Linked DNA regions of Homo sapiens: region 1 is linked to region 2. Evidence: fine-mapped expression QTL. Tissue or cell type: whole blood. Region 2 holds a variant in brackets; the other region holds the start of a gene. All regions are shown on one strand. Distances are between the middles of the regions.

Region 1 (5,158 bases), 42 kb before region 2:
ACTCGGGAGGCTGAAGCAGGAGAATCGCTTGAACGTCGGAGGCGATGGTTGCAGTGAGCCGAGATCGCACCACTGAACTCCAGCCTGGCAACAGAGCTAGACTCCATCAAAACAAAGAAAGAAAGAAAAACTGTTTGTAAAAAAAAAAAAAAACAAACAAACACTGAGGCAAAGGCCACAGCATCTGAATTTACCATCATCATCTCTATGTCACACTCAGGGACCTGAGACCTGGGCCTCAGTCCTACCCTCCGCTCTACCAGTCTACCCAAAGTCTCATGTGTTCATGTCTCTCTCTTTTTTTTTTTTTTAGATGGTCTCACTCTGTCACCCAGGCTGGAATGCAGTGGCACAATGTCGGCTCACTGCAACCCTGACCTCCTGTGATCTAGTGATCCTCCCACCTCAGCCTCCTGCACAGCTGGGACTACAGGCACATGATGCCATGCCGGTCTAATTTTTTGTACTTTTTGTAGAGACAGGGTTTTCCCATGTTGCCCAGGCTGGTCTTGAACTCCTGGGCTCAAGCAGTCCACCTACCTCAGCCTCCCAAAGTGCAGGGTTTACAGGTGTGAGCCACCAAGCCCAGCCCAAAGTCACAGGTCTTATCAACAGAGGCAGGATTTAAGCCCAGGGCCCTCTGGTCTGATTATGTAACCTGACATTTCTCTATTAGCAAAGTTAATGCAGTTAATGAGAATGAAGCATTTCAAATCCACATATACATTTCAGCCACTCCCATGGACAAGGGCAGAGAAGTGTAGTCATCATCATCCACCTCACCAAAGAATCACCTGACGTGGTGACACCTGATCAGGTGTTAGGGCCTGGACCTGCTTCCAGGGAGAATTCACAATGAGCCATCGCTTCCTTTTCTACCTAAGTCCTACTAGCAGGCATCCCTGAGGCCAGAAGATTCCATGAGCAAGCAACAAGAGTCATAGAGGGCACAGCAGGTTGTAGCCAAGACAATATGGGCCCATCTGGAGATTACATCTATCCTGGCTGAGTAGGAGGGTACATTCAGCAACATAACCATACAAACGTGCCCTCTCAGAATATGTCAGCAGGTAAGGGAGTAAGGGGAACCACATATAAAACCACCGTGGAAGCCACACAGGTCCCCTGAGAACTCCTTAAACAACCAATATACCATTTTTTAAGTCTACACAGTTCCACCAGTATGAAAGGCCATGACTCCTCATGCCCAAGATCACTGGCTAGAAGGAGGCCTCATCTTGCAAAGGTTACTTTAGGTCTCACCCCCAGGCCTCCCTAACCACTGCGGGTAAAGAAGAGGGTAAAAACACAGGCTATGATGTTAGACACACCAGTTGTTAGTTTCTGACTTAAGAAACTTAAGAGCTACAGTGATGTAAGGCAGGTAATTGGACGTATGTGACCCTCAAATTGCTCTTGTGTAAAACAATGATGACAACAGAACCTAATTCTAAAGAGTAATCCCAGCACTTTGGGAGACCCAGATGGGTGGATCACCTGAGGTCAGGAGTTCAAGACCAGCGTGGCCAACACGGTAAAACCCCGTCTCTACTAAAAATACAAAAATTAGCCAGGCGTGGTGGCGCACACCTGTAGTCCCAGCTACTCAGGAGGCTGAGGCAGGAGAATCGCTTGAACCCAAAAGGCGGAGGTTGCAGTGAGCCGAGGTCACGCCACTGCACTCCAGCCTGGGCGACAGAACAAGACTCCGTCTCAAAAAAAAAAAAAAAAAAAAAAAAAAATTTCAGGGTTAAACGAACTGAGGGTTAAATAATACTCACCGATCAGCCCACAGCAAGGACTCAATGACAGTTAATATCATTCTTTGCAATTATTTTTCTTTGTTCCCATTACATCCTTGACAAACTCAAATCCACAAGCTTCTTTAATACCATCAGATTATCTACACAAAAATACCAGACTCTGGGCAAGGGTGTAAGGTGCCACTTTAGCCGGAATTGCCAAAAAAGGCACCTCCAAATAGGTGACACCTGGACAGATGCCAAAAGGATGTGAAAGGGAGGCCCTGCAAAGTTACAGGGGCAGTGTTCGAAGTAAAAGGAAGTGCAAGGAGAAAGCCTGGAAAATGGAAGAGGACTGCACGGTCAGGTTGGTGGCTCTGAAGAGCAAAGGACCAGGGAAAAATGCAAACAGACAAGGTCAGGGGTGGTTGGCCAGGTGGATGGGGTACGGGCTGGCAGGCAACAGAGAAGGTTGGATTTAGGGGAAGTGTGATGAGATCCCTAGAAGGAAGCATCACTCCTTCAACCACGGACTGAACACCTATCAGAGGCCAACACTGTTGCAGGACTGCGGATAAAGGAAATGACAAGCCACGGCCATTTCTCTTAAATAAACGATGGCGACAAAGAAAAATCCTGTGGCTGTCTTGGCTTCCAGCCTGCCCACGAGGCCTCTAGAAATAGCACAGCAGCAGCAAGGCCGAAACCTCGTCCACTCACCTGCGCCGGAGCCATCCACGCCGCCGCCATCCCGGGAATGCCGCGGATCAGCCGACCACAGCCCTTCTCTGTCCTGGGCGGGGCGACCTCGGCTGACTTTCGCACTCCGAGCCTCAGTTTTCCCCCGAAAAAAATGCGCACAAGGCCCAAGGCGCAGCGTCGGGGCTGAGGAGACGGAGGGCGGCTGCGGAGGCCTAGGCCTCGGCGGGCGCCGGTGGGACACCTCGTTAGGGGAGAAGCGGGGCGTCAGGCTCCCGCCAAGACGCGAAGAAGGGGCGTAACCGCTTCACTACCCGTCCCTGCTCAGGCCGCAGAACGCGCCCACCCAGCGCTCTAGGCCCCACACTGTTTCAGGGCCAAACCGGCCCACGGAGATGACGTCACACGAAGAAGCGGAAGTCCCGCCTCCGCCGCCCTGGCCCGCAGAAAACTCTCCTGTCCTGGGTCGTCAATGGCCCAGAGTCCGCGGCCGACGCAAGGGGCAGTGCCTTCTGGGTAATGCAGTTTTTCCCTTACATCTACCGGGTGTGGGAACTCACCCAGCGCATCCGACTGCACGTAAGTGCGCACCAGAACCCCCGCGTCGTCTTAGGGCCACCGCCTTAGTATAGGCACAAGTCGGAGGGTCGAAAGGTCCCTTCTAGCTCAGGAAAATCGAGGTCAGGAGGCGGGGATATTCGCCCCGATTCAGACCCCGAACAAAGGTGCTTACCCTGCTGTGGGCTGGGCCCGCGACTTCTCGCTTGCTTTGCCTCTTTTCTGGATCTTTTCATAGAAGAAAAGGATAAATGAGCAGTTAAAATAGCCACCCAAAGGAGGACGCCTGACAGTGTGCCCAGCCTGCTGGGAAAGGACAGACCGCCCTCTATTGGGCCTCCTTTGGCCGGGCCCAGCCTTCGTAGGATGCAGGGACTTCCGGGTGATGTAATAGGCTTCGCGTTCGCCACGTGTGGACTTCCCGTACCCTGAGGTGGGGAGGCTGCTAGTGGAGCAGGCTTGCCGGGAAGCCCAGTACTCCCATTTCAAGCATGATCAGTTTGAAACGTCAGTAAGACCACAAAGCGTAGTGCCATATACTCAACCTATGATTCAACATTGGCAGAGGGTTCGAGCGTGGATATATAAATTTGGGAGTTATTACTGTAAACTGTTACTTCAAGTCATGATATTGGGTGAGGCTATGAAAAGAATGAGCGTAGATGGATAAGTGACGGGAAAGAGGGGAACCCTGGCCCAACCCAGCATTAACTGGTTGCAGACAGGAGAGTTTATAAAGTCTTGTTAGGAATTTTAACAATCCTAGACTATGCAAAGATTATATTATGCGAAGTCTTAGGAGTCCCCATCAGTAACTTTTTTTTTTTCTTTTCATGACTATGAAAGTGAGAGAATAAAGTCCAGCTTTCAATGGTTTGACGATATATATGGTTAAGGAAATAGAAAGGTGTGCAGAAAGTACTCTCCAAGAGATTTAATTTTGAGATTGAAAATAGTCAAGGAATGGAGATGGAGTCAATTTCCTACACGATGCGGTACTTTTGGAGAAATATTTTTGGCTAAATTAGTGTGCAAGGAACACTGTTATTCATCACTGGCAATAGTAATTTTTGAAAATTGATAAAGACATCATTCTCTTTTTCACATATTTGTGACTCTTAAATTTTTTTTTTTTTTTTTTTTTTTTGAGATGGAGTTTCACTCTTGTTGCCCAGGCTGGAGAGCAGTGGCACAGTCTCCACTCACTGCAACCTCCGCCTCCCGGGTTCAAGCGATTCTCCTGCCTCAGCCTCCTGAGTAGCTGGGATTACAGGTGTGCGCCACCACGCCTGGCTAATTTTATATTTTTAGTAGAGACAGGGTTCTTCCATGTTGTTCAGGCTGGTCTCAAACTCCCGACCTCAGGTGATCCACCCACCTCGGCCTCCCAAAGTGCTAGGATTACAGACGTGAGCCACCCCCTCTGGCCAGACTCTTATAATTAAATTTAAATGGTTTTTTCAGAGGCATATGAACCAGAGCAACTCTATCTTAAATAGGAGCTGGGTAAAATGAAGCTAAAACCTACTAGGCTGCATTCCCAGACAGTTAAGGCATTCTGAGTCACAGGATGAGATAGGAGGTCAGCACAAAATACGGATCATAAAGACCTTGCTGATAAAACAGGTTGCAGTAAAGGAGCTGGCCAAAACCACCAAAACCAAAATGGTGACAAGAGTGACCTCTGGTCTTCCTCACTGCTACACTCCCATCAGTGCCACGACAGTTTACAAATGCCATGGCAATGTCAGGGAGTTACCCTATGTGGTCTGAAAAGGGGAGGCATGAACAATCCACCCCTTGTTTAGCAAGTCACTAAGAAATAACCATAAACATGGGCACCCAGCAACCCTTGGGGCTGCTCTGTCTATGGAGTAGCCATTCTTTATTCCTTTACTTTCTTAATAAACTTGCTTTCACTTGCACTGTGGACTCGCCCTGAATTATTTCTTGTGCGAGATCCAAGAACCCTCTCTTGGGATATGGATTGGGACCCCTTTCCTGTAACACATTCCTGGCCACTACAGAAGAGACTATACTGCAGGAACCCGTGACCCAAAGGCTAACTTTGGGTAAGTGGTGGGGTCGGGTAACACTTTTCTCGCAAACCACAAAAGGGACAATGCTGAGGAGACCCCCCTGACTCAAAGGAAATAGAC
Region 2 (5,126 bases):
ACCCCTTCCCTGCGCCGGGCCCGGTGACCTTGGCTGACAGTCAAACTCTCTCGTTACGGGGAGGCTCACGGTTCGCTCCGAGACGCGGAGGTCGCTGTCGGCCTCCTACCTGCTCATTTCCCCAGCGCCGCCAGGGAGGCGGCCACGGAACACCGCCCCCTCCCTAGAGCCGGCGTGGACGGAACCGTCGCTCCCAAATTACGTCCCATCCAAATGCCGGAAGTCCCGCCCCAAGCTTCGCAACCCACAGGAAACGCCCCTGTCCTGGACCATCATTGGCCCCAGGGCCCGCCGTCGCACCTGGCAATGCCTTGTAGTTAATGTAGTTTTTCTCTACAAACCACCTGCAAAGGGGACAGATCCTGAGCCGGCAGGCCTCGGTGTAAAAGTCGCAGCGGGCCTACAGCCCGGCTCAGACCTGCCTCTGTCCTGGGGGCACAACTCGGAGGCCAGGGACCAAGCGCGAGACCGTCCATTCTTGGCCGGAGGAAATCGAGCCCCAGGAGTCAGGGACATTTGCCAGGGTCAGGGCCAGTGCAGAGACCCTGGACCAGGCTCCGGACTCTGACTTCCACCTTGCATTATTTCCCCTCCGGATCCTCTTATACAGATCAGCGGGCAGTCAGAGTAACCAAAGGGGGACGTCGGGCGGCGCGATGCCTCAGGCCTGGGATCCCAGCGCATTGGGAGGCCAAGGGGGGCGGATCGCTTGAGCCCAGGAGCTCAAGACCAGCTTGAGCAACATAGGGAGACTACCAAAAAAAAAAAAAATTTTTTTAAAATAAGCTGAGTGTGCTGGCGCACACCTGTGGTCCCAGAAGTCTGTGGCAGGAGGATCGCTTGAGGACAGGAGTTTGAGAACAGTCTGGGCGACAGAGCGAGACCTCATTGGTACCAAAAAAAAAAAAAAAAGAAAAAGAAAAGAAAAAAAATAGAGCGCGGTGGCTCACGCCTGTAATCCCAGCACTTTGGGAGGCCGAGGCGGGTAGATCACGAGATCAGGAGATCGAGACCATCCTGGCTAACACGATGAAACCCCGTCTTTACTAAAAATGCAAAAAATTAGCCGGGCGTGGTGGCTGGCGCCTGTAGTCCCAGCTACTCGGGAGGCTGAGGCAGGAGAATGATGTGAACCCGGGAGGCGGAACTTGCAGTGAGCCGAGATCGCGCCACTGCACTCCAGCCTGGGCGACAGAGTGAGACTCCGTCTCTCTCTCTCTCTCTCTCTCTACTTATATATACATATATTTATATATACATATATACATATATACGTATATATACATATGTATATATACGTATATATATGCACATATATATTTATATATATATTTATATATATATTTTTTGAGACAGGGTCTCGCTCTGTTGCTCAGGCCATAGTGCAGTGGCGCGATCACAGCTCACTGCAGCCTCAAACTCCAGGGTTCAAGTGATCCTCCCACCTCAGCCACCCAAGTAGCTGGGACTGCAGGCACGCACCACCACGCCCAGCAAATTGAGGGTTTTTTTGTTTTGTTTTGTAGTTTTTGTAGTCAGTTTCACCATGCTGCCCAGGCTGGTCTTGAACTCCTGTGCTCAAGTGATCCACTCACCTTGGCCTCCCAAAGTGCTGGGATTACAGGCATGAGCCACAGCATCCAGCCTACTCAAAAAAAATTTTTAATTAGCTGAGCATTGTGGCACACCCCTGTAATTCCAGTTACTCAGGAGGCTGAGATGGGAGGATCTCTTGAGCCCAGGAGGTCGAGGCTGCAATGACCTGTAATTGCACCACTGCACTCCAGTCTGGGCAATAGAGCAAGACCCTGTCCAGCTGGGACATGTTGCAAATGCATTGTCTCTCTTGGGCCTTCTTTGGCCAAGCTTGGTCTTCACATGGTCCAGCAACTTTTGCTTTAGGTATTGGCTGAGAGCCCTGGTAGAGTAGATTTGACATTCCTTAACGTGGGGAGTCTTGGACTGGGTGAGCTCATGACTCCAACTTTAAGCATGATCAGTTTGAAATGTCTGTATGACCACAGAGTGTCTGTGTCACAGCAGTTCAATCTCTGACTGAATATTGGGAGAGAAGTTGTGCCTGGACATAAAAATCTGGAAGTTTTTGGCAAACACTGTTATTTCAAGTTATGATACTGGACAAGACCATGAAAAAAAATGAGCATAGATGGAGAAAGGAATGGAAAGAGGTGAACATTGTTAAACAAAAATTACAGGAGGCCATTGTTTTGGAGCTCCTACAGCAGGCCTCACTGACCAAATCAAAATGGCGTCTCTCATACTAAATGTCATCTAATCAAACTGAAGTTTTAAGGAAGCAGACAGATCCCAGTTTTTCCTAAAAGCAGATTTCAGTCTACCTGAATTAGTGAAATTAGGAAGTCCCCTCTGCTTTAACCCTTAGAAAAAGTAATCTGTTAACCAATCAGCTTTTTTTTCTATTGTTCTATTTTATTGTTCCCACCTTACAAAACCCACTGTTCTGCCATTGCCCAGTGGGAACTCTAATTTCTATTGTGTAGAACAGAGATTGCCTCAATTCATGAATCACAAACAAAAGTCAATTAGATCTAAAACTAAATTTGTTGTAATTTTGGCCTTTTGACAACCCTGAACTAACTGGTTGCAAACAAGAAAGCAACAAAGTCATGTTAGGGTCATAACAA[T/C]CTTTTAAGAATTATACAGGCCGAGTGCAGTGGCTCACGGCTGTAATCCCAACACTTTGGGAGGTAAAGGCGGGTGGATCAGCTGAGGCCAGGTGTTTGAGACCAGCCTGGCCAACATGGTGAAACCCCGTCTCTACTAAAAATACAAAAATTAGCTGGGCATGGTGGCGGGTTCCTGTAATCCCAGCTACTTGGGAGGCTGAGGCAGGAGACTCGCTTGAATCTGGGAGGCGGAGACGGCAGTGGGCCGAGATCGGGCCAGAGAGCAAGATTCCGTCTCAAAAAAAAAAAATCATATTATACAAAACCTTTGTAGTCTCCGTTGGTGACTGTTTTTTTTCTTCTCATGACTATGAAGGTTAGAGAATAAAATCCAGCTTTCAATGATTTGACAATACATATGGTTATGAAAATGGAAACAAGGTGTGCAGAAAATGCCCTCCAGAGATTTGAAAGTGGAGAAAGTATCATGACAGGATGTTAACTGGGTGGAAATGTAGATGGAATCAATTTTCTAGAAGGTATTATTTGTAAAATGAGATTATTGAGAAATGTTGCTTAATTAGCGTGCAAGCTGTTGACACTGTTACTCATCATTGACAATACTAATTTGCCCAATTTAGAAGAGAGGAATAATTCTCCTTTCCATATGTGTATGACCCGTAGGGTTAAATTAGTTTTCGCTTTGGATGCAGAACAGATATTAAAGTTAGTATATTTATATTCCATCATGGAATGTCTGGAATCAGTGCTGCTGAAGAAAGCTATGTAGATATTGGTGACAATTTTTTTTTTTTGAGACAGAGTCTCACTTTGTTGCCCAGGCTGGAGTACAGTGGCGCAATGTCGGCTCCCTGCAACCTCCACCTCCCAGGTTCAAGTGATTCTCGTGCCTCAGCCTCGCAAGTAGCTGGGATTACAGCCACCATGGCCAGCTAATTTTTGTATTTTTCAGTCAAGACAGGTTTTTACCATGTTGGTCAGGCTGGTCTCGAACTCCTGACCTCACATGTTTATCTGCCTGCCTCAGCCTCCCAAATTGCTGGGATTACAGGTGTGAGCCACTACGCCCGGCCTGGGGACACTTTCAAATCCCTCATGTAAAGCATGACAGAGTTTTCATTATTTAAACATATATCATCTGGTGATCAGTGCTGAGGCCCTAGTGATTTTTCTATCCTTACCTGCCAAAAATGTGCCCAGTGATGTGTTTATCCAGCACCTAAAATGTGTAAGAGTTTATATGTGTGAACCAGTTAATTTATTAGGAATTGCCAAGTGTTTAAAATGTTAATTCAGGAAAACTGATAGGATGAAGCAAAGCATATAGAGGTAAGCACTGTGTCTCCCCATGCAGGTAAAAGAAAGAAAAAACAAAAAAGAGGTAAATACTGAAAGTGCAGGTTAAAAACCATGAACCAATGTCTTGGAGTATTTAACTTATAGATCTGCAATAGTGGGAGCTTTTCATCCAAGTGAAGTGGCTGAGTTATTTATGCTTACGTAGTGGGTCTGGTCATAGCAGAAATCATGCCTGCAACTGCTGGATATTTCACAATGAGGAGACTTTGTAGAATATAATGATAGGAGTAACATTAACAAGGCAAACTCCATATAAAGTGCTTAACAACTAAAGTTAGGAGAAATACTGGTGTAACTGACTGCATTGATCAAAAAACATTTGAGCTTACAGCTGAGGAGTCTAGATGCTTACTGTGGTAGTCAGTTTATAATGGGTGCAGGGAGCAGCTGCCACATGAAGCTGTCACAGAAGGTTACAGAAGGCTGGAAGGCCACTCCCCAAATTGCAGCATGCAGTAATTTCAGAAGAGGTGATATTACATTTATTATGAGGAATGACTTATTCTAATGTCATCAGAGTGCAACACAACACAGAGGTGCTAGTGTATTCACTTAAGAAGTGGGTTGCACTGACGTGCAGTGAAACATTTTATTTCTGAGACAGCAGCATATTGATGTCCATAAAAAGAGAGTGGACCTTTGGGTTGATGACAGTCCTGTTTTACAAATGGCATACTCCTGAAAACATGGAGAATAGTAAGTTGGATCAAGGAGCCACTGTGATAGGTGGCAGGTTTATGTACCCTCAGGGAATTTATCTGCAGAAAGTAGACAAGAGTTTTCTTTCTTTTCTTTTGAGACGGTGTCTCACTCTGTCTCCCATGCTGGACTCCAATGGCACGATCTCAGCTCACTGTAGCCTCTGCCTCCCAGGTTCAAGCAATTCTCATGTCTCAGCCTCACAAGTAGGTGGGATTATAGGTGCCCGCCACAACGCCCAGCTAATTTTTGTATTTTTAGAAGAGACAGGGTTTTACCATGTTGGCCAGGCTGGCCTTGAACTCCTGAACTCAAGTGTTGCGCCTGCCTTGGCCTTCCAAAGTGCTGGAATTACAGGCGTGAGCCACCGTGCCTGACCTGAAAGTAGGCAAGAGTTTT

What was found. PIP is the estimated chance that this variant, and not a neighbour inherited with it, causes the effect.
Region 1: ZNF460-AS1 starts here. The variant in region 2 is fine-mapped to the expression of ZNF460-AS1 in whole blood (TOPMed, PIP above 0.99).

Annotation. Positions count from the first base shown.
Region 1 is chr19:57,278,141-57,283,298 of GRCh38, reverse strand. It overlaps ZNF460-AS1 (ZNF460 antisense RNA 1), which reads left to right and starts at 2,965. Exons shown (of 3, transcript NR_136529.1): 1 at 2,965-3,020. ZNF460 (zinc finger protein 460) reads right to left here and starts at 2,814. Exons shown (of 3, transcript NM_006635.4): 1 at 2,463-2,814. The coding sequence starts at 2,492. RefSeq lists enhancers at 1,333-1,452, 2,381-2,972, 2,356-3,555, 2,973-3,564, 2,679-3,618 and a silencer at 1,909-1,958.
Region 2 is chr19:57,235,692-57,240,817 of GRCh38, reverse strand. It overlaps ZNF805 (zinc finger protein 805), which reads right to left and starts at 186. Exons shown (of 4, transcript NM_001023563.4): 1 at 1-186. RefSeq lists enhancers at 79-348, 369-588. The variant T/C (reference allele first, on the strand shown) is at 2,667.